4 linked regions of the Homo sapiens genome follow. The protein of the gene in region 4 purifies or fractionates together with the protein of the main gene of each other region. This does not show direct contact. Each region holds a gene or a part of one and is shown on either strand. Other genes may lie near its edges.

What was found.
Region 1: the proteins of FIP1L1 (region 4) and CPSF2 purify together in Homo sapiens (affinity purification with mass spectrometry; 7 studies listed by BioGRID and IntAct, with this or other methods). This does not show direct contact.
Region 2: the proteins of FIP1L1 (region 4) and WDR33 purify together in Homo sapiens (affinity purification with mass spectrometry; 5 studies listed by BioGRID and IntAct, with this or other methods). This does not show direct contact.
Region 3: the proteins of FIP1L1 (region 4) and CPSF3 purify together in Homo sapiens (affinity purification with mass spectrometry; 5 studies listed by BioGRID and IntAct, with this or other methods). This does not show direct contact.

What each region holds. Positions count from the first base shown.
Region 1 is NC_000014.9:92,152,969-92,159,968, forward strand, and holds part of CPSF2 (cleavage and polyadenylation specificity factor subunit 2), read left to right. Parts: intron 1-1,389; coding exon 1,390-1,490; intron 1,491-2,154; coding exon 2,155-2,355; intron 2,356-3,510; coding exon 3,511-3,663; intron 3,664-4,690; coding exon 4,691-4,916; intron 4,917-6,014; coding exon 6,015-6,314; intron 6,315-7,000. UniProt on the Homo sapiens protein: Component of the cleavage and polyadenylation specificity factor (CPSF) complex that play a key role in pre-mRNA 3'-end formation, recognizing the AAUAAA signal sequence and interacting with poly(A) polymerase and other factors to bring about cleavage and poly(A) addition.
Region 2 is NC_000002.12:127,703,158-127,710,190, reverse strand, and holds part of WDR33 (pre-mRNA 3' end processing protein WDR33), read left to right. Parts: intron 1-334; coding exon 335-498; intron 499-608; coding exon 609-701; intron 702-1,298; coding exon 1,299-1,514; intron 1,515-3,638; coding exon 3,639-3,868; 3' UTR 3,869-7,033. UniProt on the Homo sapiens protein: Essential for both cleavage and polyadenylation of pre-mRNA 3' ends.
Region 3 is NC_000002.12:9,418,787-9,426,686, reverse strand, and holds the start of CPSF3 (cleavage and polyadenylation specificity factor subunit 3), read right to left. Parts: upstream 3,034-7,900; 5' UTR 2,914-3,033; coding exon 2,864-2,913; exon of another isoform or gene 2,472-2,863; coding exon of another isoform or gene 2,452-2,471; exon of another isoform or gene 1,727-2,451; intron 155-1,726; exon of another isoform or gene 127-154; coding exon of another isoform or gene 65-126; intron 1-64. UniProt on the Homo sapiens protein: Component of the cleavage and polyadenylation specificity factor (CPSF) complex that plays a key role in pre-mRNA 3'-end formation, recognizing the AAUAAA signal sequence and interacting with poly(A) polymerase and other factors to bring about cleavage and poly(A) addition.
Region 4 is NC_000004.12:53,422,616-53,429,648, reverse strand, and holds part of FIP1L1 (pre-mRNA 3'-end-processing factor FIP1), read right to left. Parts: intron 3,778-7,033; coding exon 3,684-3,777; intron 1,623-3,683; coding exon 1,466-1,622; intron 1-1,465.

The sequences.
Region 1 (7,000 bases), on a different chromosome or scaffold from region 4:
ATTGCTGCAATGTACGAATGTACTTTTTTTTTACACATTTGTGATTGTTTCAGTAGGATAAATTCCTAGAAGTAGAAATACTGTGTCAAATGTCAAATTTTATTTTTAGATGTTAGCAAATTGCCTTTTAACATAGTTGCACTAATTTTCCAACAGATAATGGAAGAAGGTACTCTTTCCCCATGTATGGCATTGCCAATCTCATAGATGAAAACAATTATGTTTTTTATATTTTGTGCTTTTCAAAAATTAGTAAAATTAAGGATCTTTTCATGGCCAGTAGTTATTTGTCTTTCTTATTTTGTAAATTGCCTTTTTAAGTATCTTGTGCTTTTTCATGTGTTGATCATCCTTTTCTTAACTAATTTGGAAGAGCTCTTAGGAAAAAATCATTTTTATTGGTCGTAGTGCTGAAAATATTTTTCTGTTTCTTTTTTGTTTTTCTTTTCAGTTTCTTATTTTGAGATTTAAAATGTCAAAGGGAGTTTTTCTTTATTCATGTTGCTGTATTTATTTATGTTTCCCATTATGGCTTTTGGGCCTCACCTACTCCAAATTATAAAAATGCTTATCTGTATTTTCTTTTCCTGATTGGTGATTTTTAACCAGTTTGATTGTTTGGTTGATTGAGACAGGGTCTTGCTCTGTCAGACTGAAGTGATCCTCAGTCTCAGACTCAAGTGATACTCAGTCTCTGAGTAGCTGGGACTACAGGTGCATGCTACCACTACTGGCTTTTTTTTTTTTTTTTCTGAGACAGAGTATTGCTTTGTCACCCAGGCTGGAGTACAGTGGTGTGAGCACAGCTCACTGCAGCCTTGACCTCCCAGGCTCAAGTGATCTTCCACTTTAACCACCTGAGTAGCGGGGACAACAGGCACATGCCACCACTCCTGGCTTTTTTTTTTTTTTTTTTTTATGTGGAGACAAAGTCTCATTATGTTGCCCAGGCTAGTCTCAAACTCAAGTGATTTTCCTGCCTTGCAAAGTGCTAGGATTATAGGTGTGAGCCACCGTGCCCAGCCTCCCAGCTAATTTTTAAATTATTCCTAGAGACAGAGTCAACCTATGTTGCCCAGGCTGGTCTTGAACTCCTGGCCTCAAGCAGTCCTCCCACAGTGCTAGGATTATAGGTGTGAGCTACTGTGCCTGGCCAACCAGTTTGATTTAAATTAAACCCATTCTAGATGATGTGTGACAGCTCAATTTTAATACTAATCTAAATAGGACCTATAATTGTATGTAATGGAAACTTGATTAATTTCAGAGGAAACAATCAGTTTAAAGATGATAGAGCAATTTAGAGATGTGATGTATCTCATATCCCACTGCTTTAACCCCCTAATATTAACATATTAACATTTCCTTTTGTCTTTTATTTTTTTTTAGTTGAGGAAACGTGTGAAGCTTGAAGGGAAAGAACTTGAAGAATACTTGGAAAAAGAGAAACTAAAGAAAGAAGCTGCCAAAAAGCTTGAGCAGTCAAAAGAGTGAGTCATTTTCAGACAGATTATAAATTTATGGATGCAATTTGAGAAGAATGTGTCCTTGACTTAAATGTTTCATTGAAAATATTTTTAAATTTTCGTAAGACTTAATTTTGTTACAGACATCTTTCAAATGTCTAGAATACCAGATCCTGTCAGTGCTAATATTATTATGCATTTATTTGTTATGTTTTATAAAATGTCAGTCCAATAAAGTTGAATGTTATTCCAGTCATGCATCACTTAATGATGGGGACAGTTCTGAGAAAAGTGTCGTTAGGGGATTTAGTCATTGTGCAAACATTAGGATATATGTTTACACAAACCTTGATGGTATAGCCTACTGTGTATCCAGAGTATATGATATGGCCCATTGTTCCTAGGCTACAAACCTGTACAGCATGTTACTGTACTGAATACTGTAGGCCATTGTAACACAATGTTAAGTATTTGTGTATCTAAATGTATCTAAACATAGAAAAGGTACAGTAATCTTATGGGACCTCTGTTGTATATGTGGTCTATTGTTGTTGACCGACATAACTGTATATTATCATTTAATATTGAATTAATAATATTGAGTATGGATTCAGTAATAAATTGATAAATATTAATTTAAAATATCTTTGAAACTTTATGACCTTGATCTATTCTAAAATCCTCCTAGGGCAGATATAGATTCCAGTGATGAGAGTGATATTGAGGAAGATATTGACCAGCCATCAGCTCATAAGACGAAGCATGACTTGATGATGAAAGGTGAAGGCAGTCGTAAAGGAAGTTTTTTCAAACAGGCAAAAAAGTCCTATCCTATGTTTCCTGCCCCAGAAGAAAGAATTAAATGGGATGAATATGGAGAGATTATCAAGTATGTGAGCAAAACAAACTTTTCTCTCTTACAAATTGGAGGTATTAACTGTGTTATCATTTCATTTCAGTGAATTTGATCTTTCACTTGATCTTTCTAGTCACATGTATGGGGTTAGCTTCTGAGTACCTCAGCCTGAAGACACAGAAGACTTGTAACTTGAAACATAAAAATAGAGATGCTGAGAAACATCTAGAGAATATTGAGAGAAAACTGGCAGTTTATGACTTAGTTGTGTAAAGGTTTAAAAACATGATCACGTGATCAAGACTTTTTTCCCCCACTTAAAAAGAGAGGAAGATGTAGGATAGGAAGAACTTTGGGGCTGTGTGTGGTGGCTCATGCCTGTAATCCCAACACTTTGGGAGGCCGAGATGGGAGGATCACTTGAGCTCAGGAGTTTGAGACCAGCCCAGGCAATATAGTGAGACCCCCATCTCTATCTTTAAAAAAAAAAAAAGAACTTTGGATGGCTGGTGATTGCATTTCCAATGGATTATGTCTTAAGTATTATACAAGTTTTATGAGATTAAGAGGAATGTGAGATAGCATGAGTGAAATCATGGAAAAATCTACAAAATCTATACTGACTATTAGAAAAACAACTGCAATCACATGTTGTAATTGCAAATTTGAAAACACTACTATCCTGTGTGGAAAATAAAAAAAGAAAAACATGATACAGGCCAGGTGTGGTGGCTCACGCCTGTAATCCCAGCACTTTGGGAGGCCGAGGCAGGTGGATCATGAGGTCAGGAGTTCAGGACCAGCCTGGCCAAGATGGTGAAACCACATCTCCACTAAAAATACAAAAAAATTAGCCGGGCGTGATGGCAGGCACCTGTAATCCTAGCTACTCTGGGGGCTGAGGCAGAGAATTGCTTGAACAGGGAGGCGGAGGTTGCAGTGAGCCGAGATGGCGCCACCACACTCCAGCCTGGGTGACAGAGGGAGACTCTACCTCAAAAAAAACCAAAAAACGCAATACATACAGCCATCTGGTAATTGATATGAAATTGCATCAGCTTTGGATGAAATGTATATTTAAATCTTGAGATATGTGAGGACTCCAAAAATTATGCCACCTACTAGTCATATATGTTATGTAGTATTAGCTTGCTTTTTACTGCTTCTAATTAGAGACTTATTATTTAGACCAGAGGATTTCTTAGTGCCAGAGCTTCAAGCTACTGAAGAAGAAAAAAGCAAATTAGAATCTGGTTTGACAAATGGAGATGAACCTATGGATCAGGATTTATCTGATGTTCCTACTAAATGTATTTCTACAACAGAGTCTATTGAAATAAAGTAAGTGCTTTTGTGACATTTTGAAAATAGATTATAAGATAAAATTTCAAGCATTTGAATTATATAATTTACATTATGTCAAGCAAAATTTCTGAATATTCTTTAGTAAGTTTGTGCTTTTAAAATTTATTTTTGTATGAAGAGACTTGTGAAGTATGGTGGCATGATATTTTCTCTTCATTAATGGTATTTGAATGCCAAAGTAATTGAATTGGTGGTGGTGGGGGGTGCTTAAATTGTAACATTAAATTGTACATTTATATGAAGAAAAATTATTTTTGGCCTTTTTATTCTGTAAGCAGGTGAAAGGGAATAATGTGACTCACAGTTTAATTTTTCTGAGTAACTGCTTGTTTCATAAAATATACTCCTTAACTTAAACATCTCTAAGACCCTAATGTCTGGAAAATACTGTTGTGATCTGAAGTAGTTAGAAACCTTTTTTCTCCCGCTTTCTACTTAGTTAAATAATACCAGTAAGTGATCATTTTGGAATTTCTTTTAAGTCATCAGAGAACAAAGTTTTTTATTTGTCCAGTAATATCATTTAGTATATATTTTTGGGTGTAGATAAAATCTAAATAATACAGATAGGGCCGGGCACGGTGGCTGATGCCTGTAATCCCAGCACTTTGGTAGGCCGAGATAGGCTGATCACTCGAGATCAGGAGTTTGAGACCAGCCTGGCCAACATGGTGAAATCTCATCTCTACTGAAAATGCAAAATTATCCCTGCGTGGTGGTGCATGCCTATAATCCCAGTTACTTGGGAGGCTGAGTCAGGAGAATCACTTGAACCTGGGAGGTAGAGGTTGCAATGAGCGAAGATCATGCTACTGCACTCTAGCCTGGGCAAAAGAGCGAGACCCAATCTCAGAAAAATAAAAACAAAAATAAAATAAATCATACAGATACTATAACATGTGTATTTCTCAAATCCTAGTGTTATATATTGTATACATGATAAAAGCCATTTTTTTTTAGAATTATGAGAAAAGTAATCTTGAATAATCATATCTAATTACAGAGCCCGGGTTACCTACATAGACTATGAAGGACGCTCTGATGGGGATTCCATTAAAAAAATCATTAATCAGATGAAACCACGACAGTTGATCATCGTCCATGGCCCACCAGAGGCCAGTCAAGATCTGGCAGAGTGCTGTCGCGCCTTTGGTGGGAAAGATATTAAAGTGTACATGCCAAAGCTACATGAAACAGTTGATGCCACTAGTGAAACTCACATCTACCAGGTAAACATGCCAGGAGTTGCCATTGAGTAGAAATAAGTACTTTTTGTTGCAGGTTAGGACAGATAACATTAGAAATACCGAGATGTGTGAGACAGACATGGATGGTCTCCTGCCCTAGCAGACCTCATAGGGTATGGGGCTTAGAACAAGGAAATACCATTTATCATGTTGTTGTGCCACTGAGAGAAGAAGTACAGGATGCTATGAGAGTATCAAGAGGGGAAACCACCCACATTTAGAGGTTTAGAAAAGGTTTCCTACAGGAAGTGATAACTAATCCTAACTGATGTTTAGATGGGTTGTCAGGACAGACAGAGTAGGAAAGGGGGGGAAGAGCGTTCTAGGCAGAGGGAACCATATTTGCAAAAGTACAGAGGTGAGGAAAATGATTAAGAATTCAAAAGTTTTAGAAGAATTCCCGGATATCAAGGTTCTACTCCTAATTGGAACAAATGGAGATGGATACCAAATATAGGACTAGCACAGTAGAGAGATAAATTTTGTCTGGTAATGGGAGATGGTGTCAGTTTAAGGCCAGAGTGATGTCTATATCTGGAAGAAATGGATGTGCACATACCAGGCAGGAAATTTATTCTGGGCAGAGTAAGAAGAAGCAACCTTCCAAGAATATGGAGATGTGAAATTCTGTGGTATATTCAGGAAAGGACAAGCAGTTCAGTACCTACTGAAGTATGCCAAGTACTAGAGGATGGGAGTGATCAGTGGTTCTCAACCTTGACTGCACATAAGAATCATCTGGGGAGCTTCGTGAGGGTCAGAGGGACTCAGTTTTTCTGGTCTTAATCTTACCAGTTATGTTAGAAACACTGGATATGACGCTCTGATATACTTTTTGTTTTAATTGCCATGTGATTCCATTTTGTAGTCAGGGTTAAGAATCTCTATTTTGGAAAGTAGGCAGGGGCCCAATGATCTGCAGGTAATGAGGTCATTGCAGGTCATTGTGGGACTCAGATGAGTGAAAGATTTTCCAATTTTAACATATTACCAGAGGTAGAAAATGATAATAGGTTATATTTAATTTGTTAATATGTATTCTGTGGGTTTTATTTCTCTCCCCCTCCTTTGCATGTCTAGGTGAGGTTAAAAGACTCACTTGTCAGCTCTCTTCAGTTTTGTAAGGCAAAAGATGCTGAATTAGCTTGGATAGATGGTGTCTTAGATATGAGAGTTTCCAAAGTGGACACAGGGGTTATTTTAGAAGAAGGAGAACTAAAGGATGATGGAGAAGACTCAGAGATGCAAGTGGAAGCTCCCTCAGATTCTAGCGTTATAGCACAACAAAAGGCCATGAAAAGTCTGTTCGGAGATGATGAAAAAGAAACAGGTGAAGAAAGTGAGATCATTCCTACTTTGGAACCCTTGCCACCTCATGAGGTAAAAAAAGCATGTGCTTTTTTGATTTCTTCCTGAATTTGTCATCCTTCTAGTTTTCATGTCTTTTGGTTTTTTTCCCCCCTTCTAAAACTAAGTGGGTCTGTGGAACCTTTTATATTTTTAACCATTTAAAATATATGTCAGCTGGGGGCAGTGACTCACGCCTGTAATCCCAGCACTTTGGGAGGCTGAGGTGGGAGAATTGCTTGAGGCCAGGAGCTCTACATCAGCCTGATTATAGGGACACCCTGTCAGAAACCTAGTCGGCATGGTGGCATGCACCTGTAATCTCAGCTTAGAAGGCTGAGGCAGGAGGATTGCTTGAGCTCAGGAGTTCGAGACTACAGTGAGCCACAATTGTGCCACTGCATCTAGCCTATATGATAGAGTGAGACCCTGTCTTGAACATAAAATATGTCTCACATTTGGGCTGATTTTGGAGTTTTTAAAAAAGAGAACTTGTGACATGCTTCTGTGTGTATGTCTCTGTGTATATATTAATTCTATATAGCTAAGGAATGACATATCTTTAGCAAATCTTTTAAGGTACATAATTGTTTCATGATTTTTTTTTTTTGGTCTGGATTTTTAAATTTTAAGTTTGATGATTGTGAGGATCACCTGCCTGCTTCCAGTCAGGAGATTTATAGTTTTCTAAGAAAGTCATACTGTTTTTTTTTTGTTTT
Region 2 (7,033 bases), on a different chromosome or scaffold from region 4:
GTTCTCATCAGTGGAACTGCTGATAATACCAGCTTCATATGGTGGCTGTGAAAATGAAATGAATGAAATGAAGTAATACTTGTATATACCTAAAAGCCTAAAAGAAGCTTAAAGTAACTCCACACTCTGGTGTGTTTCCTTCTGGTCTGTTTTTGCCTCTGATAGTATTAATAGGATTATATAATGTATCCTTTCAAAAATATATAGTTTTATTTTGTTTTCCTCCCAATTAACATTGTATCATGCTTTCTCATATCATATGCTTCTTTGAAACATGAACTTAGAGTGGCAAGGTGTTCTCTGAGATGGACATTCTGCTGTTTTCTCTTTACAGTTTCAGAAGAGGAGCCCCGCCGAGGCATGAGGGCCGTGCTCCCCCCAGAGGAAGGGATGGTTTTCCTGGTCCTGAAGACTTTGGTCCAGAGGAGAATTTTGATGCTTCTGAGGAAGCGGCCCGAGGACGAGATCTCAGAGGTCGAGGTCGGGGTACCCCACGAGGTGAGCGAGTTACTAAAGACACCTGGTCTGGAAGGATAGGGTGCAGAATACACTGGTTGTGAATACACCAGGAACAGTCTGAGTGCAGCATTGTTTGCTCTGTTGTGTAGGAGGAAGGAAGGGTTTACTTCCCACTCCTGACGAGTTCCCTCGCTTTGAAGGAGGGCGGAAGCCAGATTCCTGGGATGGAAACAGAGAGCCTGGTAAGGAAAAGAACCGCTTGTTGGGTAACTCTAGACTGCAGTTCACAAAGTGAGTTCTGAGGGCCCTCTCTGGGGTGCACCGGGTCTCCTCTTTCCAGCTCATGTCTCCCGGGGGGCTGGGCTGTCTCCTGTCCTGCAGCCGCAGCACTTGATCTCAGCAGGTGGAATGCAGAGCAGAGGAATCCGCCAGACATTACAGGGATCTATCTGAGTATAAAACGGGACTGCTCTTTCCACTAAATTGCTTTTGGAGAATAAAGTTAAGTGAATTAAAATTTCCCCAGTCTCAATTGCTAATATGGTAAATATTCGCAGTTACAACTCTCATTAACAAAATCTCTTAGGAGTCCTCAGTAATTTGAGACTGTAAAGACGTCTTGATACTACAATGCCTGAGAACGAGTTCTCTGGATCTTACCTGCCCCTCTTACATGAGGAGGCACCCTGATGTCTGGGTGGCTTACCCTTTGGCCTCTGGCGGGCATTCAGCATGAGTGAACGGTGGCTCTCGAGTTGCTCCTTACTCTCACAGTGTCATTCCCATCTACTTCTGGTCACACTGTGCTTTCCTGTAAGGAGATTTGTTTCTTGTTTCAGGGCCAGGTCATGAACATTTTCGTGATACTCCCCGCCCTGATCATCCCCCTCACGACGGTCATTCCCCAGCCAGCAGAGAACGCTCCTCTTCTCTCCAAGGCATGGACATGGCATCCCTACCTCCCCGAAAGCGCCCCTGGCATGATGGCCCAGGCACTTCTGAGCACAGAGAGATGGAGGCCCCAGGAGGCCCTTCTGAAGACCGAGGAGGCAAAGGTAAGAGCAGGCCAGTGGTTATGGTTCCAGGAGATGCAGGGGCCGATGGAGGCCTTGCCTGTATCTGCTGCACATGCCCTTGCAGCCTGGGCTGTGCAGAGGCACATGCTCCTAAATGTGGTGCCAGTGCCACACGAGCTGTCATCTGGTGGACTGCAACTCAGCCCTGCACAGGACTCCACTTGCCTCCGGGAATCCCTGTTCACTTGAGGTTTTCACTTCAGCCCTCTGCCAAGATGCCCCAGCACTCTCTGCTCGGCTTGCTGTCTGGGAGCCCTGCTCTCCTTGGCAGTCTGCCCTCCACAAGGCTGCTTGGAACCCTCAAGGGCTCTCAGTGGGAGGGGAAGAGTTGTCCTCTCCTGGGTGGTCTGTTGGTTTTTTTAGCCTGGGTCTAGAGGAACACTGCTTGTGCTCAAAGTCACAGAGACTTTGGGAAACATGGTCTATGGGCAGTGTTTCCAGGGGCACAGTAGATTATCTCCTCAACTGGGAACTGTGGAGCTTTATGTTATAGGCAGCACTAACTTTAGCCAGGAGTAGTTGCCTCTGAAGGCTGACTATACAACTCTGGTTGCAAGGCAGCGGGGGAGGTGCATAGGTGGTGTGGCTCGGAAGCTTCTGGGAAGGCTGCTCCCCGCATGCCCCAGCTTGTGCTCTGCTCCTGAAGTTGGCCTGTCTGTATGGACGGTCCTTCCAGTACAGAGTTCTGCCATTTGGTCTTTTTGGGTTTTTTTCTGTCGCCCAGGCTGGAGTGCAGTGGTGTGATCTTGGCTTACTGCAAGCAACCCCCGCCTCCCAGGTTCAAGTGATTCTTGTGCCTCAGTCTCCCCAGTAGCTGGAACTACAGGTGTGCGCCACCATGCTTTTGTGTTTTTAGAGAGATGGGCTTTTGCCATGTTGGCTAGGCTGGTCTCGAACTCCTGGCCTCAAGTGATCCACCTGCCTTGGCCTCTCATGAGCCACCATGCCTGGCCTGCCATTTGATCTTGATAGTTGTTTGTCTCAACAAAACCCTCAGAAATTACCTTATGTATCATCAATAGATCACCCTGCATAAACACATTGTACTACTAGCCAGTGTGCTGTGACCTTGGCTGACTTTCTTGGGCACTCAGCACACCATTATTAGGTCCCTCTGGTCAAGGACATGCAGTTAGCATGGGAATGATGTAGTAGCTGACACTCTGCCCAGGTGCCTCAGGTGGGTTGAAGCTGCACTTTCTAAGAAAAGAAGCCAAGATTGTTCCTTTGGCTGGCTCTCCTAACTTCATCTCAGCTAGATTCATATTCTATTACAAAATATGAGACAGCGGAGAGTTTGCAGTCATCTTCTGAGAGTGCATTATGGGAGATGTGACCAAATCCTATCATTTCCTGAGGAAAAAAATCTTACAAGATAGAATTTTTTTTCCTTTTCCTTTCTTTTTTTTCTTTTTTTTTTTTTTTTAAATATATTCTCAAGCTGCAACAGAATGAAAGAATTTTAATAGTACCTAAACATTTGTGCATACTAGTCTGAAGCAGGTTAAGCTGTGCCTCGGTGATAGAACCTGAAAGCCAGTGTTTTGTGGGGTTTTTGGGTTTTTGTGCTTTTCTTTTGTTTTTTCAAGAAATACTTTATTTTACTAATTATGAAAAGGAAGCCAAAAGTGCCACATGTCACGGGACAGTCCCAGTGAACGCTTGTCCTAGTTGGAGCACTTTTTATTAACATTAGCAGTGTGTACTTCCAAAGTTAAGTCAGTATATTCAAACCTTCCCTCAATATACCCTGGTGGCTGGGAGCAGGCAGATACACTTCCCATGGCCTGGGACATGGCCCAGTGTGGCCCGGGTCTCCCTGAAGGTGCTCCTTGCTCATCTCTTGGCTTCCTGTCGTCTGTCACACAGCCCTGGGGGCATGGATCTGGCTGATGCTGAGGCCCATGGCCATGAGCCAGGAAGGGGGAGGCAGGGTCAGGAAAGGGTAGAGGCACACCTCTCAGTACGCTGAATACCACTGCCAGTCTCCCTGGCACCCACCAGAACTGGTCCATTGTCATCAGAGAGTAAAGTTTGTACTGGGAGTTACTGACAAACAGTTGCTAATACAAAAAGTCCCATGTGAAATTTTCTTTGTTTCAGGCCGAGGGGGCCCAGGACCTGCTCAGAGAGTGCCCAAATCTGGGCGTTCCAGCTCCTTAGACGGAGAGCACCACGATGGATACCACAGAGATGAACCTTTTGGGGGCCCTCCAGGCAGTGGCACCCCTTCTCGAGGGGGCCGGAGTGGCAGTAACTGGGGTAGAGGGAGTAACATGAACTCTGGCCCGCCGAGGCGAGGAGCTTCACGGGGTGGTGGAAGGGGTCGGTAGAAGCTGGAACTGAGTACCCTGAGGCCTCTCTGGACAGTATGTAAGAACTTCTTGTGGACTCACCAAGAGAAACAAAAGGAAGCCTGCACCATTGTAGCCCTGAACTCTTTTCTGGGCACCTGAATCCCAGGAACCCTCAATGAGGTCTTCAAGATGAAGAGACTGCTGCCAGCTACCAGCCTGGCTGGCCCTGTCCTGTCCACCCTCATTGCCCCAACTCCCATGTTGTTTTGTGAAGATAAAAGCTGGGATCTTTTTCTTTTTTTTAAGTCTCACAAGACATGGGGCATCTCCACAAATTTAAGTTCCTGTCCATTTGGAAATTTGTTTCTATGTGTACAGTTTGTCAGAGAAAAACAAAGTTTTTGTATGAATACAGAATGTGATTTACGCAAGAATTGACAGAAAACTAGTTGTGAAGTGCTTGCCTTAAGGAAACCTTTGGTTTCCATCGCATCCCATCTGCCAAGGAATGCACGGTTGTTGCTGATGTTCATGAGCATATTAACCACTAGGTTATCTAAATTAATCTCAGCTGTGAACTTTGTGTTTTTCAACACATTCTGTCACACCATTTTTGTGACAGAAAAATACTTGAAAATTATTCTAATGTAGTTTGTAGTAGGTTCAAATTTTTATTCAGACATGCTCTGACAGATGGAAAATTGTACTCTGAAGAGAAAATGCAATCTTCTGGATGTCCAACGAGGGAGCTTCCCCTTGGAAGCATCTCCTAAGAATCACAGTTTAGGTTTGAATCGCCTTGTTATGATGAGGAGAGGAACTTGATGTTAGTCAGAAATAAAGTCACATGCCCTTTAGATAACTTGAAATCACACATGGAGTTGATAAGGAATGGACCAAAATAGGTCCTCAAACAATTTTGCAACACTTAATTAAGTTTTCCTCTCTTCCTCTTCCATACTATGTGGAAATACCAGTGTTACGGCAGGGCGTACTTCTAACTCACAGTAAGCCAGATAGATCTTGTCCATGGCAAATTCCTTGTTTAAAATAAACATACCATTTAGCCCAGTTTGGATTGGAAGCCAAAAATTCAGTTTGTTATATACCCCATGATACTTTCTATACTGACCTTTATTTTGGTTTTACATGGAAGCTTTTATTAAAAGGACTGTCCTATGGCCACCTTAACATTTCATTACATTGGCAGCTTCAGTTTTGGCATCAGTCAAATTTATTTGGCAAATTTAGTGGTGCTGGAAGTTTCTTTTTTTCTTTTCCTTTTTTGACAGAGTCTTGCTCTGTCACCCAGCCAGGAGTGCAGTGGTGCAATCACGGCTCACTTCAGCTTTGACCCTGCCTCAGCCTCCCTAGTAGCTAGGACTACAGGCATATGCCACCATGCCCAGCTAATTTTTTGTGTGTGTGTTTTTTGTAGAGATGGAGTTTCACCACTTTGTCTATGCTGGTTTCAAACTCCTGGGCTCAAGCGGTCCACCTGCTGTGGCCTCCCAAAGTGCTGGGATTGCAGATCTGAGCCACAGTACCTGGCCGCTGGTGCTGGAAGTTTCAATGGTTGCTTAGAAAAGGCATACTGATATAGTTTAACAGGATATGAAAATTTAACTGGTTCTCTATGAATGTAAAAAACAGCAAAAGCTAATTGATTTCTGTGGAGTGAGAAAATGTCAGCCATATACACTGCTTTTCAGTGTTAGAATCTAGAGACTATTTTTTTTTTAACTTTGAAATTACAGCTTATTTAATCAGCGCTCCACCATAAACATGCTATTAGGAGGCTCAAGATTGCTTTAGGTTATGGGTATTTCTTCACTCACCCCCAACTGGTATAGCTTAAAGAGAGAGAAACTGTAATCAAATTTCATGAAGCTAAAACCGGATCCAGAGACCAAACCCATATCAAGATTAGACTTTTTTTCCCTGAGATTCTAGTGGAAAAATTTTCATTATTTTGGGCTTTAACTTTAGAAACATAGTATCTCAGTAAGCAGATAACCAGATCACATTTAAAAATTTTCATTTTACCTTGAAGCTCTACTGGACTTGACAGATCACATTTTGAGAGTGAATTCATTTAAACAATAAACCTCTACATTATACTTATTAAATATATATGGCATTTAAAAACATCACTGTCAGCATACATACTAGATGTTGTGATTTGAAGCTTATAAAAAGTAGATTTTCAATGATGTTTGATTTGAGAAAAAATTTTTGAGACAAGGTCTCGCTGTTGCCTAGGCTGTGGTGCAGTGGTGTGATCACAGTTCACTGCAGCCTCAACCTCCTGGGCTCAAGTGATCTTCCCACCTCAGCCCCACCCCAAGTAGCTGGGATCACAGTTGTGTGCCACCATATCTGGCAAATTTTTTGAAGATTTTCTGTGGCGATGGGGTTTAACTGTGTTGCCCAGGCTGGTCTTGAACTCCTGGCCTCAAGTGATCCTCCCGCCTTGGCCTCCCAAAATGCTGGGATTACAGGTGTGAGCCACCAGCTGAGAAATGTTGAATTTTTAAGTTTTTATTTAAGAAATAAACATTGTAAAACATCATTATAAAACCCCCAACTATTGCAAGTTCTAGAGAAATTTAAAACTAGAACAGAAATTTAGGGGACTAGAAAGAGCAGCCAATGGCACAAGTCTTTACAATTAATTAAAAAAATAAATCATTCTGAAGATACTGCATTTGCTCTCTCACAAGCAGCCTCCTGAGGTAGGTAACCTTGTTTACTGATGGGGAACAAGGCAGTGTTCTTTACCAAATCTCAGGGCGGGTAGCCTGCAAGCCTACAGTGTGGATGTTGGCCACTTGTGTCACTTCTTGGGACGGGGCTTAGGGACCTGACTTACTTAGGAACATAAATTTTGGGGTTGGAGGAAGCAGCAGTGCTCTACTGCGGCACGACAGACACCCTGTTAAGGCAACACTGGGATCCAGCTCAGGAAAAGCATTACTTTCAAATTGTGCAAGCCAATGCACAGAAAAGTGGTCCTCAAACTTGGGGAACGTAGAATCACTTGGGGAGCTTTAAAAAGGTCCTGATGTCTGGGACCTACTTCCCAGGTTCTGACTGCATTGATCTGAGGTGTGGCTCTTCAAGTAACTGATGTGCAGTCAAGCGCGAGGACCACTGGCACACAATGTTTAAATTCTAAATATATTTTACTTCCTAGTGTAT
Region 3 (7,900 bases), on a different chromosome or scaffold from region 4:
GATGCTCTCATCTTGTCTTGCTGGCTTTCCTGTTTCCTTCACATATTCAGCCACCTCTGCCTACCCTTTAAATGTTGATATTCCGAGGGTTTGCTCCTTGGCCAACTTCTCAATCTTCATTCTCATCTTTCTGACATGCTAAGGACTTCCAAGCCTGTATTTGTAACCCAGATTGTTCTTCTGAATTCTAGACCTTTAATACATACACGTGACACTAGGTATCTCTACTAGGATCTCTCCCGGGACTTCATATTCAAGATGCCAAACTAGTTTCCACCACATGCCCCGTACTTGCTCTACTTTCTTCCTGAAATGCTTTGTCTTCAGATATTGATGTGGTTGGCTCCTTTGTATCATTTGGGTCTCAGTTCCAACGTCACCTTCTCAGATGCTTTCCCTTGACTACCTCCTCTAATTTGCCCTTCACAGCAAGCCACAACCCAGCATCAGTTATCTTAATACAACTACATGAAGTTATTGTACCTACTTATGTCTTCTTTCAGGCTACTAAATGAAAGCTTCCTAAGAACAGAGGCATTGTCCATCTTATTCACTGCTGTATTGCTACAGTACCTGGCATGTAGCACATCACAAAAAATACTTATTGAATGAACAAAACTCCTCAATTTTGAACCTTGGAAAGATTATGCTAAATGAAAGATGCCAGAGACAAAAGAGTATGTATTGTATGATCACACTTACATGAAATGTCCAGAACAGGCAAATCTATAAAGAAGTAGATTAGTGGTTGCTTAGGGCTGGAGAGGTAGTGGGGATTGTCTATGACTGCTAATGAATACAAGGTATCTCTTGGGAGTGATGAAAATGTGCTGGAATTAGAGAGAGGTGATGGTTGTATAACTCTATGTTAAGAACGACTGAATTATACTCTTTAAATGAGTTGTATGGTATGTAAATTGTGAGTTGTATGGTATGTAAACTGTATCTCAATAAAGCTGTTACGAAACAACCAAATTCCCAAATTTACTCCAGAGTTGCCCCATCTCTTATACTCCTTGAGTGAATAACACTACCCTTTCCCAACTGCCAAACTTAGGAATCTGATCATAACATCCTCTCTGCCCTGCCTTCCCTCCCCACAACCACCCTTCCAGATACAGCTGATCAGCCACAAAATCCTGAAGATCTCATTTGCATACTCTCTCACACTCACATCACTCACTACAGGCTCTCGTCAGCTAGACTTAGAATCTTTCAATATCTCACTGAATCTGCTCTACTCAATCCATGCTTTTATTCATCCATGCTTTTATTCATCTGCTACACTGCTGCCAGGAGAGATTTTCCTAAAACATAATTCCCACAATATCCATGCTTGCTTAATAGCCTTCGCTGGCTCCCTGTAATTGACTTGATAAAGGTCCAAACTCCTGTGTATACGAGGTGCTTCCTAAACTGGACCTCAACTGCCTGTCGCTTCATCTGCTAACTCAACTCTTTAGCTACAGCCATGAGGAATCTGGCCACAAGCTGTGACCACTCTCACTTTCATATGTGCCACTTCCACTGCCTAGAACATCCTGGGCCCCCCAGTCTTTAACTCCTACTCATTCTTTAGGACTCAGCTCAGGCATCACATTTTTCAGGATCCACGAGGTATCCTTTTTTCCTCAATCTGTCAGAAATCCCTTTTCCATACTTTCACAGTGCTCAGTGCAATGCCTGCCTGCGTTCTTAGATTAGCTATTATTTACAAAGCACCTACCGCGATGTTCACTCTTCAAGTTTTATCTTATTTCCATATGAGAAAACGGGTTCAGTGAGATTGTTGTCCTACTAATTGGTCAAGTAGATAATGGACTTCAGGTCTGACTTCAAAGTAATAGTCTCCTATTATTCCAAAGTATCTCTCCAATATTTCCCACTGTGCACTGTAATTCTCTCCAAAAGAGCGAGAGCAATTAACTGGGCCCTCTGTTGCGTCTATATCCCCATGTGTGGTGCTTGACACTTGCTCAGTGTTTGCTCATCACAGGAAGACATGACAGGTGTGAACTAAGCAGAAGGAAACGGACTATGTCCCAAGCAGGTGCTCAATGAAGCCTTACTGAATGATTGTGTAAAGGAGATACTTTCTACCTTTTGGAAAGCGTATATTCATGTTGTGCCAACTAGTATCTAACAATAAACATGTTGTGGGTTCGAAATGCTCATCTGTAGGAATTCAAGTTCTCTACATTTGCATCTCCCCTTCAGCAGCATTCCCGACTGATGAGGATCGTGTCCACTGAAAGGCCACTCTCCTTATGGACAGTCGAGGGCTGAGTTTTTGTCCCTAACACCTCTGCACTTTCTCTTCTCCAGCTTTACACCTTCCTTATTCTACTAGGGCCTGAGCTGAGAAGATCGAAACTCACGGCAAGTCCCTAATATTTTCTAACTTCTGGCACATGTGAAGCCCTGGTGTTAAGAAACAGACTTAATTCTTCCCTGCACGGCTGTAGCCTCATTCAGGTCCTCCTCTCATCCTGTCGGTCATAAGCTTCACCGGCTCCCTCACAGCTTGCCCTGACGCGCAGAGATCCGTGCTTGTGCTAAGTGAAAACGCTTCTTAGCGTGTACGAAAGCGAGCGGTGGCCCCGTAAAACTTTTTTTTTTCCGACTCCAACATACCCTCCCCTGAAACTGATGAAAAAGCAAAATCCCGTTCACTCTATAGCAGGCCCCTTCCGATCAACGGTCCTCCAACCCCTCGAGCCTGAGAAGCCTGGCCCGCAAGCGCGGACCAAAGGCAGGCTGCCGGGGTAGGTGGGAGCGCGGGCGACGGAGGAGGCCAGTCTCCGGTTACCCCTCGCGCCCCTCACAGCCCGTGGCTTCATTCCCTCTCTCGCTGGTCCCTTACAGGGGTCGGATCAGCAGCTGGTCGCTCTCCTCAGCAGGAATCGCAGACATCCCGAAAGTGTGAGGGCGAAGCGGGGGTGAGGAACAGGTCGCCGGGGTCTTCCTAAATTGGAAGCACAGCCACCGGTAAATAAAAAAGGAAGAACCCCATTCACCAAGAGCACAACTTCCGTCACTCCGGAGCCCGCGGCACTAGACTCCTCCCCTCGACTTCCGGTCGGGGGACGCCGCTCGCGAGGCTTCCCACCACTTGGGGTCTTGGAACCGGGGGTAGGACGTCAGGACTGCGCCTGCGCATAGTCTTGGAGGCGCGGCCCGGCGGACGTGGGCAGGAGGGCTGGAAAAGCCGGCGCTGGAGCGGGAACGGGAGTAGCTGCCTGGGCGCCAAAGGCCGCGGCACTCCCACGCGGACCCCGAAGTCCGCAACCCGGGGATGGGCCCGCGGCTGCGAGGTGAGCGCCCAGCCCTCGTCCCGCTTGGGGCCGAGCTCGCGGAGGCCTGACGGGAACACGGTCCCGAGAGCGGCGCGGACGGCCAGGAAGGATGGGTGGGGCCGCGGGGCGGGCGGAGGAGGGATGCCTGGGCTCGGGCTTGGTTCCGGGCGGGGCCGCGCTCCCGGGGCGCGGGTGGAGGAGCTTGGAACCACGCAGATCGGGCGTGGGCTTGCGGACTGCAGCTTCCCGAGCCGCTGTCGCCCCGGAGGGGCGGCAAGGCGGGCGGCCGCGGGCCGTTTCCTTGCCTCTTCCTCTGCCCCGCTTCGGCCGCCTCCCGCCTCTCAGGGTCGGGGTTGTCTGTCCCCTTCGCTGTCACATCCTCCGCACCCAGCGCTTGGAAGGTGCTCCATCACGGTGACAGACAGGTGCCAAGCAGGCTGGCGTCTGGGAGGAACTTCGGAGCCGGCTCTCCCTAGGCCCCGAGCTTGGCCGCATCCGTCCTTACTCTGGTGACCCTGGGCAGGTCACTGACTCTTCGGGCGCTTTGGCATCCTCGTTTGAAAGGGGCTGTTATCCTGCAGCCTTGCTGGTCGGTGAGGGTGAGGGTGAGAGGGATCTGTGCACCTAGCACCGTGCATGGCACGTGGTAGGCGTTTGGTACATGGGAATCGCTGTTGGGGTGTCACCTCCCCAGAAAGTTCTCGGCTTCAGTAAGCGCGTCCCCTGCCAGGCGCCCTGGCAATGCAGAGGAGTCACCGAGCTCCGCCTTTGACCAGCGTGCAGCTGGGAGAGTGAGATCAGAGACCACAGCAGATCGTGGCGCTGTGATCAGGGGGTACACTCAAGCTGTGGGTCCCTTACCCCAGCCTTGAGATCCCAGGAAGGCCTGCAGCCTGAAACGGGCCTTGAAAGGTAAGAAGTAGCCAAGTGCCTGACAGGTGAAGGACGTCCCGGGCGGTGCAAAGCAGGGGCGCGTGGAGCATCGCGCTGAGAACCAGGAGCAGCTTTGCCTTGCTGAGATCAATGAACTGTGCCCGGGTTGTGGAGGATGGAAGTGGAAAGGTGATTAGGAGCTGGGTCCTGGAGGACCTGGCGTGTCGTGCTGAAGAACGTTGACTTTGGTCTCTGACTTTGGAGAACCAGTGAAAGATTTTCAGCAGGCTAGTGGCATTAGATTCATGTTTGAAAGAAATCATTTTAATCGTTTTGGCTGCAGTGTGGGGGTAGATTTAAAGTGTTAGGGAATCCAGTAGGACAAGGTCCCTTATCCACGAAATATCCTTGGGTTTGTGAATTCCTTAAATTCATGCCAAACTTTGTATGGATGTGCATTTTTATAGGGTGAGGATCCATCACATTCATCAGTTTCTAAAAAAATAGTGTCTGTGCCCATGGTTTAGGATGACGGGGGCCCTGGTGGAGAGCTGGCTCAGAGAGCTCTTCAGGTGGGGTATACAGTGGGTCTTGGTGCCAGATTGGATGTGGGGCCTGAAGGACAGCAAGGAAATCATGATTTTCTGGCTTCCTCCAGCAATAATAGAATCTCCTGACAGGGAGAGGAGAGGAGAGGAGCAGATCTGGAGGGGAGGATGATGGGTTCAGCTTGAGACATCTTTGCATTTGATGAGCCTGCGGAGCATCCAATCGCCAATCAGGATCATTGGCCTCATTTTGATGCATGAATAATTTTTTTTTTTTTTTTTTGAGACGGAGTCTCGCTCTTTCGTCCAGGCTGGAGTGCAGTGGCGCGATCTCGGCTCACTGCAAGCTCCGCCTCCCGGGTTCACGCCATTCTCCTGCCTCAGGCTCCTGAGTAGCTGGGACTACAGGCGCCCACCACCACGCACAGCCAATTTTTTGTATTTTTAGTAGAGACGGGGTTTCACCATGTTAGCCAGGATGGTCTCGATCTCCTGACCTCGTGATCCGCCCGACTTGGCCTCCCAAAGTGCTGGGATTACAGGCGTGAGCCACCCATGAATAATTTTGAGGCAAGAATGATTTGCTTGAGAACATGCATCAAAATTGCAGCAGATATCAAAGACTTTAATAAATGCTGCTTTTTCCTAAGCCGCTGGGTTGATGATGAAAAGAAAGCCTTAAGGAGTTGCTAAGGCATTGTCGTGTCATGATTTTCATATCAAGGGATTTGAGGAGACACTTCAGGATTCCACTGACAGTAGAATCACATTTTGTTTTTAAAATAAGTTTTGATTTAAAATTCAAATCATATTTAAAATTGTTACCTATATATAAATATGTATTTATATATACTTAAGTATCTGATGTTTAAATATGTTACACATCAACATTTTAACCCGTGAGCGCCATTAACATGGCACTTTATGCTGCTACGTTAACCTAGTTTCGTGCAGGCCTTGGAATAAGGCTCTCCTGCCATCTCTCACTGACAAGTGTCCTGTGCTGGTAAGGTTCCCCTTTGCAGCAATCACCCGCAGTCTTCTTCCAACACATCTCTCACTTTTTACCCTTATCCAGTGGAGTTAGTTCGCTATCTGGCAGCCAGGGTCATCGTTTAAAAAACAGAAGACACCTGATTGTGTCGCTAAACTGCTTTTTAAAAGCCTCCATTCCAGAAGATCACAGCAGATAAGCAAAAAATAAATAAAAAGCCTTCAGAGTATTCCTCTTAAACTAAAGTCCACTGTTACCGCGGCCTGCCTGGCCTTCTGTGGCACTTTGGGCCCATTGCTGTCCTCCTGCTCCCGGACAGCCTTGACTGTTCCCTCGGGCCCCTCTCCACCCGCACGGCATTGCCTCCAGGCTATTTATGGCTGCCCGCACTTCTTTCAGAAAAAGAGCTACAGCATCTTTTTCTGAAATACCCACCCCTTCCTTCCATTAGTCTGTGTCTCCTCAACTTGTGTTAGTTTTCCTCATAGCAGTGGTTTCCTAATAATATGTTTCATGTGTGTTTTTCTTGTTGGTCTGTCTACTCTCGCTAAGAACAGGCTCCCTGAGGTCAGGGGCTCTGTTTGGTTCACTGATGCATCCCCGACACCTGGTAGGTGCTCACTGACTATCCAGGAATGAATGAATAAATCAGATTTTCCTGGTACCCCACAAATAAAGCAAAAATATAGAAGTAAATTGGATGATGAGGCTGATTAAAAAGCTTGGGCTCAGTGGTCAGACTTGGGCAAGTGGCCTAATGTCGTCCCCTAGTAAGTGGACTTAGAGTGGGGTCTCCAAATACGGAGAATCTTTGGGTTGCAGCAGGAGCTTTCACTGACTGCTGCGTGAGTTGCTCGTTCTTTTTCCTTCATCAGGTGCGTAGTTTCTCTGAAAAGCATCACCCAGGTCAGAATGAAAGGAAACTCTCTGTGCAGACCGCTGTATGTGGGACCTTTGAAGACAGTCAAATAGTGTTCAATTCTATAGTAAGCAGATTTTCTTGTTCTCTCTGGAGAATACAGTTTTTGGTAAAAAATTGATCAGGTTATCTTATTCATAAATCGTCTTGAGAGGCAGGTCACAGTTCCCTCATCTGTAAAAGGCAGATTACAGCCCACCTTCTGTGAGCCCCTTGAGGGAGAGCTTAGAGCCCTGCAGAGTGTGTGGCATATGGTATGCCCTTAAAAAGCATCAGTAGAGCAAATGGATATGTCACAAGGTTATCATGAGGCTATGACAGTAGAACTGTCCCGGGAGTTCTGTGAGCTGTGCAGCTTCATGTAGGTTAGTTAATTTGCCAAGTATAGTATATGCTGTCCTTATGCAACTGGCAAGGATGAATCTTAGTTTCCAATGCATTTATTATTATTAATTTCAAAAAAAGAAATATGTAACACAGACTCTGGGAGGCAAGGTCATCTCCTTAACTACGCTTAATAGAGAGGGGAGGTGAGGTGCTGGCACCTGGGAATGTCTTTGTGTCAGCTTTTACTTAAAGGTATTTCAAAACTTCAAGAAAAATGCACATTTCTGAGAGGTGTGTATATCTTAGCCCTACCAAGTATAGAATGTGAAACTGAGAGGGTTACTGAATCTTAGTATCTCGACTGAAAAGCCAATGTGTCATAGTATATTTTGCTAAAATCTTGACTCAATTGAAGAGAAGTAAGGCCCTTAAAATTTTGAGAACTAGGTGACGTGTCTGAAAATTTTGAGAAAAGTGCTTTTCACACCTGTAGGACAAGAAGGTTTCTGCCTTTTTTGCTTATTGGGTTAACTTTCTATAATTTAATAGGAAAGAATGAAAAGGAATAGTATCCAAGGGAAAAGTTAATTGATGATTTTTATTTCTATTTTGCATAAAGTGATTTAATGTTGCATTTCCTGATGTAACTGTAACCAATATCAAAGTTGCTTTTCCTGGCTGGGCATGGTGGCTCACAGCTGTAATCCCAGCACTTTGGGAGGCCAAGGCGGGAGGATCGCCTGAGAGCAGGAGTTTGAGACCAGCCTGGCCAACATGGCAAGATCCTGTCTCTACAAAAAATGAAATTAGCTGGGTGTAGTGGCACATGCCTGTAGTCCCAGCTACTCGGGGAGGCTGAGGTGTGAGGTCAAGACTGCAGAGCCATGTTTGTGCCACTGCACTCCAGCCTGGGTAAGAGCAAGACTCTGTCTCTTAAAAAAAA
Region 4 (7,033 bases):
AATTATTTCAAATCACTACCTAGTAAAGTTTAAGTAATATTACAAAGGAATCCAACAGAGTACCACAAACATTAATAATTTTTTTAGTATCATTAATCAAATATGTTGAAACATTAATTATTTCTACCTTTTATTTATCTAATTCTTTTTCAGAGGACAAAGGATTCACATAGAAATCACAGAAGTCCTCATTTTGAATCACCTAAGTCCTCTTTCATTTGGTTAATACTCAGCATATTAAAGACACAAGAACCACAAGTCAATCCCAACTAATGAGTCGTTTCTGCTCAATCTATTTGTTGGAACTAGAAATTCACTGAAATTAGAAATACTAATGTTGTCTGGAATAAGGACCTCTAACCTATATTCCAACCTCTTCCTTCCACTATTGTTGAGACAACAGACCCTCTAAAGCCACAAGTCATTTTTTCATATTTTTCTCATACTTTTTGAGAGTAGAGGTGACAGTGGAAGGAAATCAAAGGCACTGAAGATGAAAGACAGAAGCAGTGGCTGACATTTAGAGGCCAAGGATGAATATGTTAGGGAAGGACTATTCAGACCCTGGATTTGGTTCTGTACTCGGATCACAACTGGCACCTTAAAACAAAGACAGCTCTCTTGCAAATAAAAGTGAGTGAGAGTACATGGCTCTCTAGTATAAACTGATTTGATTAATAGGAAGTAAAGCCTAACATACGTCTTTCATGTTGCCCTGATGAGGACAAGCAGCTATTTTTTCATCATTTACTACTAGCTTTCTCCCTGGGAAGAAGTAATTATTATCTCAATCAATCTTGCTAGTTTCATAAAAACTTGGTTAAGGCAGATAAAGGTTAAAAACAAAGTAAGAAAGGCAACCCGATGAAAAATTCAAATAAAAATAAAATTTGGGAATTATTTGTGAGTTTCTTCTCTATCACCACTAACCTGGTTTTTAATTGTAATCAAAAGTAGCTAAAAATATGATCAACATTTACTTTTGTTTAAAAGAAATAAATACCAGGCACCCAGTAGCAGTCTCCTAAAAGGAAACCGGTATACAGAAGAAGACCAGACTGAAATATTAATCAATCTCTTCGCAAGATATAATTTTTTGATCTACTCCCATCCTGAAAGTATCTTTTAATGTTTTTTTCAAAACAAATTAACACTGGTAAAGTTTGTAACTGAGTATGGATTTATACATATTCTATTAGCAACTTAAGTTTGGGGATCATTATCATATTTTTGAATCACAAGATTGGTATCTGTATATTCTTCTTAATTTTAGAACATTGTCTCTTTCCTATATTGAAATAGCAATAAACATATATATATCTGTTTCAGTGTGAATCTGTTGAAGATATTATATCTATTACTTTTAATGAAATGTGATCAAGATATTATTTTAATTGTCAAAAATTTTAAAAAACACTCGCAAGCTATTTTTCTTTCAAAGTCAAATGTCTTATTTACTATTTACCCGGTGGTGGAATCAGAGGTGGAGCAGTGCTGACAGTCGGAGGAGGTGGAAGAAATGGAGGAGGTGGAAGGTGAGTGGGAGGAGCTCCTGGAGGGAAAAACGGAGGTGGTTTGCTAAAATTGTTGTCTACTTCAGTAGCAGATCTTTCAGAAAGGACCTAAAATTAGAGCACAGTTAATTAAACAGATGCATAAATATTATGTAAGATTAATCTTAGTAAATTAATTTCATTTAATCTAAGAAACAAAGTAAAAGGTAGTTTAATTCACATATATGTATTTTTGGGGGGAGAGTAATAGTTCTACATGTGTGATATGTGTATACATACGCCTGTGTGAGTATACACATACATACAGTTTTAAAAATGTGCATATTCAAATCTTAAGAAAAAACAACTGGATCATTACCAAAAATTTCTTAATAAAAAGTAATTAATACAAACACTCCACACAAGAAAAAAGTACTTCATAAAGATCATTTAACAAGTATTATCTTTGTCACCCAACCAAAGTTGAAGTATTCAATTAAGGCAATGTAATCATTAATCACAGACACTGGCCTTAAGAAATTAACATGGCAGCAGGTCAGACATTCACTGTACAAGGGCCTGTCATCACCAGGTTGCAAAGTAAGAAACTGTCAGGCATGTGTCAACAGACTGCAAGCAATAGGCAGCAAGATATGTAAGTAACTTTATCATGTGAGCCTTGTAACTTTAAGACCAGGGTTTATTCTTGAAAAATAAAGCAATGTTTGCAAAATGCTTCTTTGTGTGAACAGGTTAAGGGACAGGCACCATAAGAAGCACCCCAAACCTACTGAAATAAAACAAGCAAAGTGGCACCTCAAAATCTGGATTTTTGATAAGCTCCCCAAGGATGTGTAAATAAATTTGGGAAAGACAGCCAACATAATGTTGTATATTTAATTTATACTTCTCAGATCCTTGCTGACTAAAGCAATCTTTTAAACATACAATCCCTCTTTCCATTAACACTTCCTACATTTAAGTGCAGTGTTTTTTGTAGGGCTTATGCTGATAAGCTATTTCTTAAAGTATTTATTTTGAGAAATCGTGGCATTTTAATGGTAAGGGGAAAGGAAAAATGGACTAACATCTTCCACTATAGAAATGATTTGCCTTTAAAGATGCTAAAAGGAATATTTTACATGATCAACTTATCAAAGGTAAGAATAAAGTGCTCTGGACATTTTTAAAAGGACTCAGAAAATAGGAATAAATAATGAAAAAAAGTATGGCCAAAATGAATAGCTGGAAGTCTCAGTTATTAAAGTTCTAACATTAATTATCCAACTTACTGATAATTTATCTCCCCTCAATTTTTCACCTAAAAACAAAGCAGCTCTACGCCACCTCCAGAAATGTCACATTAAATAAATCATGGTATATTTATCCAATGAAGCTATCATGAAGATATTTTAATCATATTTTAAGAATATGAAAACATACAAATGATAATTTTAGATGGGGAAAAAAGTATACACAGAAATATAATTATAATAGTATCCCAATTTTGCTTAGTATCAAGAGATGTACCAGATGTGGTTATCTTTAGGTGGTAAAATCACTGGTGGTCTTTTATTTTTCATTCAGTAAACCTATATACAAGTTGAGTATTCCTAATCCAAAAATCTGAAATCTGAAATGCTCTAAAATCCGAAACATTTTGAGCATCAACATTTTATCACAAGTGGAAAATTCCACACCCAACCTCACATGTGACGGATCACAATCAAAACTCAGGCCCACTACACAGTTTACTCAGGGTTGCCAAAGGAAAAAAGATTATCATAAATTAACAAATCATTATAACAAATTAAATAACTTATTTATGAAACATAAATTTCATGTTTAGACTTGGGTCTCATCTCTAAGATTACATACGTATGAACATTTCAAAATCCAAACATTTCAAAATCTGATACACTTCTGGTCCCAAGCATTTCAGATAAGAGATACTCAACCTGTACTATGTTTCTACCAAGGAAAAGAAAGAAAACCCTATTAAAAAAAGATTCAGAGATTATAAATTCTAACTGGAAATGCCTTTATAATAAATGACTGGCTTCACATTTTAAATCTCTTTGTATCACCTAAAACACAGCATAGCACTATGACTATCTATTGAATAAATTAAATTATAATGTTGATATCATCCTTCAGTTAAAGAAAATTATTTATTTTAAAATACTAAACCTGTATGTTGCTGTTCTCATTTGCCCGTCGCCTGCCTTCTACTCGGCTGATAGTTATAGTCTGACCGATAACATCAATTGCCCCAGGTAATCTCCTGTAACATAAAAATTGAATCAATTCAGTTTCACCTAATTAGATGCTTAAAAAATAATAAAAGCAGTGAGAAATAAAAACAAAATGTGTTTGCAATAAATTTTAAAATAAAACCAGATCACAATACACATTGAAAAATATCCCTGAGTTTAAGCTCACTACTTTGCATTGTCATAAAAATTTTTATTAATAAACAAGCTAGAACCAACATACCCAACAATGATCATAATGTTAAGTTTTAAGTCTCTGTAGAGCTCTTCTACACTTACTAGTTTTAGTAGTCTCCAAATAAATTTATCTTTGTGAAATTAAATAAGACAGCAAATGCTAGACAAATGGAAATTTTGGGACCACTACAATTGTAACACATACTACAGCTCTATTACAGAAACTTTAAATATTCCCCAAAAAGGCCTGAAAATAATGCTCATTTTAACATACACAAGATATTTTCCTTGTGATATATTCCAAGTGTTAAAAAACATAAAAAAGGAACCAGTTTGCCATTTCTGATAACTTGCATTTAGATAGAAAAATTCAAATATTTAAATACCCGCCTCACCTCTACAATCTTTTTAAAGTTTATAAGGATATGGAAAAATAGTCTATCATAAAACAATGCTATAAATTTAAGAGAAAAACCTAGTAAGTTGTATTTTAAATAAAATAATGTTAAAAGCTATTATGCAGATAAAGGACTTTACAAAAGTATGCATGCCTAAGATGATATAGAAGTCACTTGGAGAAATAGGCAATGAAAAGTGGATGCAAATTAGATGAATTTCTCTTCATCTATATTTCAGTTCTGAACAATACTGCCTTTAAAACTTTATAGAAGCAAAACAATTAAAATACCATAGATCCTTCCACAGTCACTAGATTAGGCTCCTAAAATGACAAATAACAGCAGCTACCATAGGTTGGATGCCAAACCCATTATATCTAAACTTCACAAAAACTGAAAAATTACTGTATACTTGTTAGAGACAAGCCATGGTCCAAAGTGAAATCACTGACACAAGCATGAATTAAATAGCAAAACTAACTTTCAAACCTGAGTCTTTCTAATCCCAAAGACTATAGACCTCCCCTCCCCTTGAGCTAGGTTTCCTTCCAGCAAGACCTTTGAGGAATTTAAGGCTTTTCTGGAAATCATGAGTTAGTAAGAGTTTATCTCAAGTAGACCTTGAAACACTCCACAAATTATTTTGTGCTAACAAAGACAGCCCTATAAAAAGCACATCATGACATCTGAAATGTTTTCAAGTACATAGTCAGTTCCCACTTACCATCCCTTGCCCACTTAAGACTTCCCTTCTCTATAACTTTAGTACAATTTAAAAATGTTCAAGCCTTTCTAATTTTATGCCTGAGTCACTGACTTCCTAGATTTCCTCATGATCCCAAAGATCATGAATGATTTCATTGGAGGATTAACATATCCTCCAATACAGCTGGGGAAAGATCTTAATATTCACATGTTACAAAAATCCAAATATCTCTACAATAAAACAAATATTGCTTCCATTTCTTCCCTATAATTTAAATTGCAAAGCTATGCCTACCATGACTGCATTATCAAAGCACATGCCATCAGCCCTCTGATATACAAACATTTCATATTCCAACATCCTACTAAATACAGGTGTGCATTCTGAGGCTGTAATTTCCTCTCTGTTAATTGCTGCCCTCCATTGTCAAAATTTTTATTTTCGCTCTATTTCCTTTTCTACTATTTTCTCTTGCCAATCACTGGACTCTCTCCTTTGCATTTTTAAATTTATTCCCATCAAGAACAAATTCTACCAAATTTGTTTGGACTTGCAAGTCAGATAGCAAATTCTCCAAATTGTTAAAAGTGGTAAAAATTAGATCTAGATATAACTTTCCTGTTGAGGGGAAAATTTTCTATAGCCTGTCTTTTACCATTTATTTCTGAGGATCTCTAGTTTTCAAAAAGTCTGGGACACATGGAAGTATTCACCTCTTAAAATGTACCTTAAATATGGTCAGAAGTCTAATTAGTTTTTTTCAACTTTAAATTGATTGTTTTTAATCACTAAAGATTCAAAATGGCAAATACTATGTTTCTAAAAACATATAACTGAGAAATCAGCCTTAACAAGTATATATCCCTAAAGGGAGTTCAGAAAATTACAATTCTCCACATTTTCAAAACATCTCCTTGTGCCCGTATTTTTTAACCACATAAACTGATTTACTTTAATCATATAAATTAAGCTTACCGTTTTGTTCCAAAATGTTTTATGATAAGACACACAGTATGTACCACAGCAACAAAAAGCACATAATATCTAACACTGACAAATAATTTAAAAATCTAATATTATTCTGATGCCACATTATGGAAAAAAATATTGAACCATATTATTCCACGAAAGTTCTTAATGGACAGCTTTTTCTTTCATTGCTTAAGAAGATTTAATAGAGTTTCCCTATGAGGAAATCTACTGTAACTTAAGAGTTCCCCAAAGCGTAGGTTTGATTAGGCCAACAAACTTGTTCAGTAAGGTAGACAGCTAATGCTATTATCAAAATCCTCTTCTCCATATTGGACTCAACCATCTAGTAAAAAGCTAAGAAACTAACCACTCTGGGTGTCTGAGTTAATGTACAGTTTAAACAGGCAGTAAATGTTCCCAAGAGCCTCTACCTCCCCTCCTGGCACAGTAAATGAATATAAAAATATCTCTGAAGTTACAATGGAATTAAATTATCATATTTTGATGATTCTGATATCCCAGAAAGAATCTGAGGGCTCCCTGCAGAGATGCAACAGAAAGTTTAAGATGACAAATCAGGGCTAATAGAAGATAGACAAAAGGCCATAAATTGATCTCTGAAGGTCAGGCTCACGCATGTAATGCCAACACTTTGGGAGCCTGAGGCGGGAGGATTACTTAAGCCCAGGAATTCAAGACCAGCCTGGGCAACATGGCGAGACTTTGTGTCTACAAATAATTTAAAATATCAGCTAGGCATAGTAGCACATGCTTGTGGTCCCAGCTATTCAGAGGGCTTAGGTGAGAGGATTGCTTGAGTCCAGGAGATGAAGGATGCAGTAAACTGTGATTGTGCCACTGCACTCCAGACTGGGCAACAAAACAAGAGCCTGTCTCAAAAAAAAAATATATATATATACATATATATATATCTCAGCTGCTTTTTCTTGGAAGCCAAAGCAAAGGACATCATTAACAACAAATGTCTTTAATGTGCATTAAGATTAAAACAAA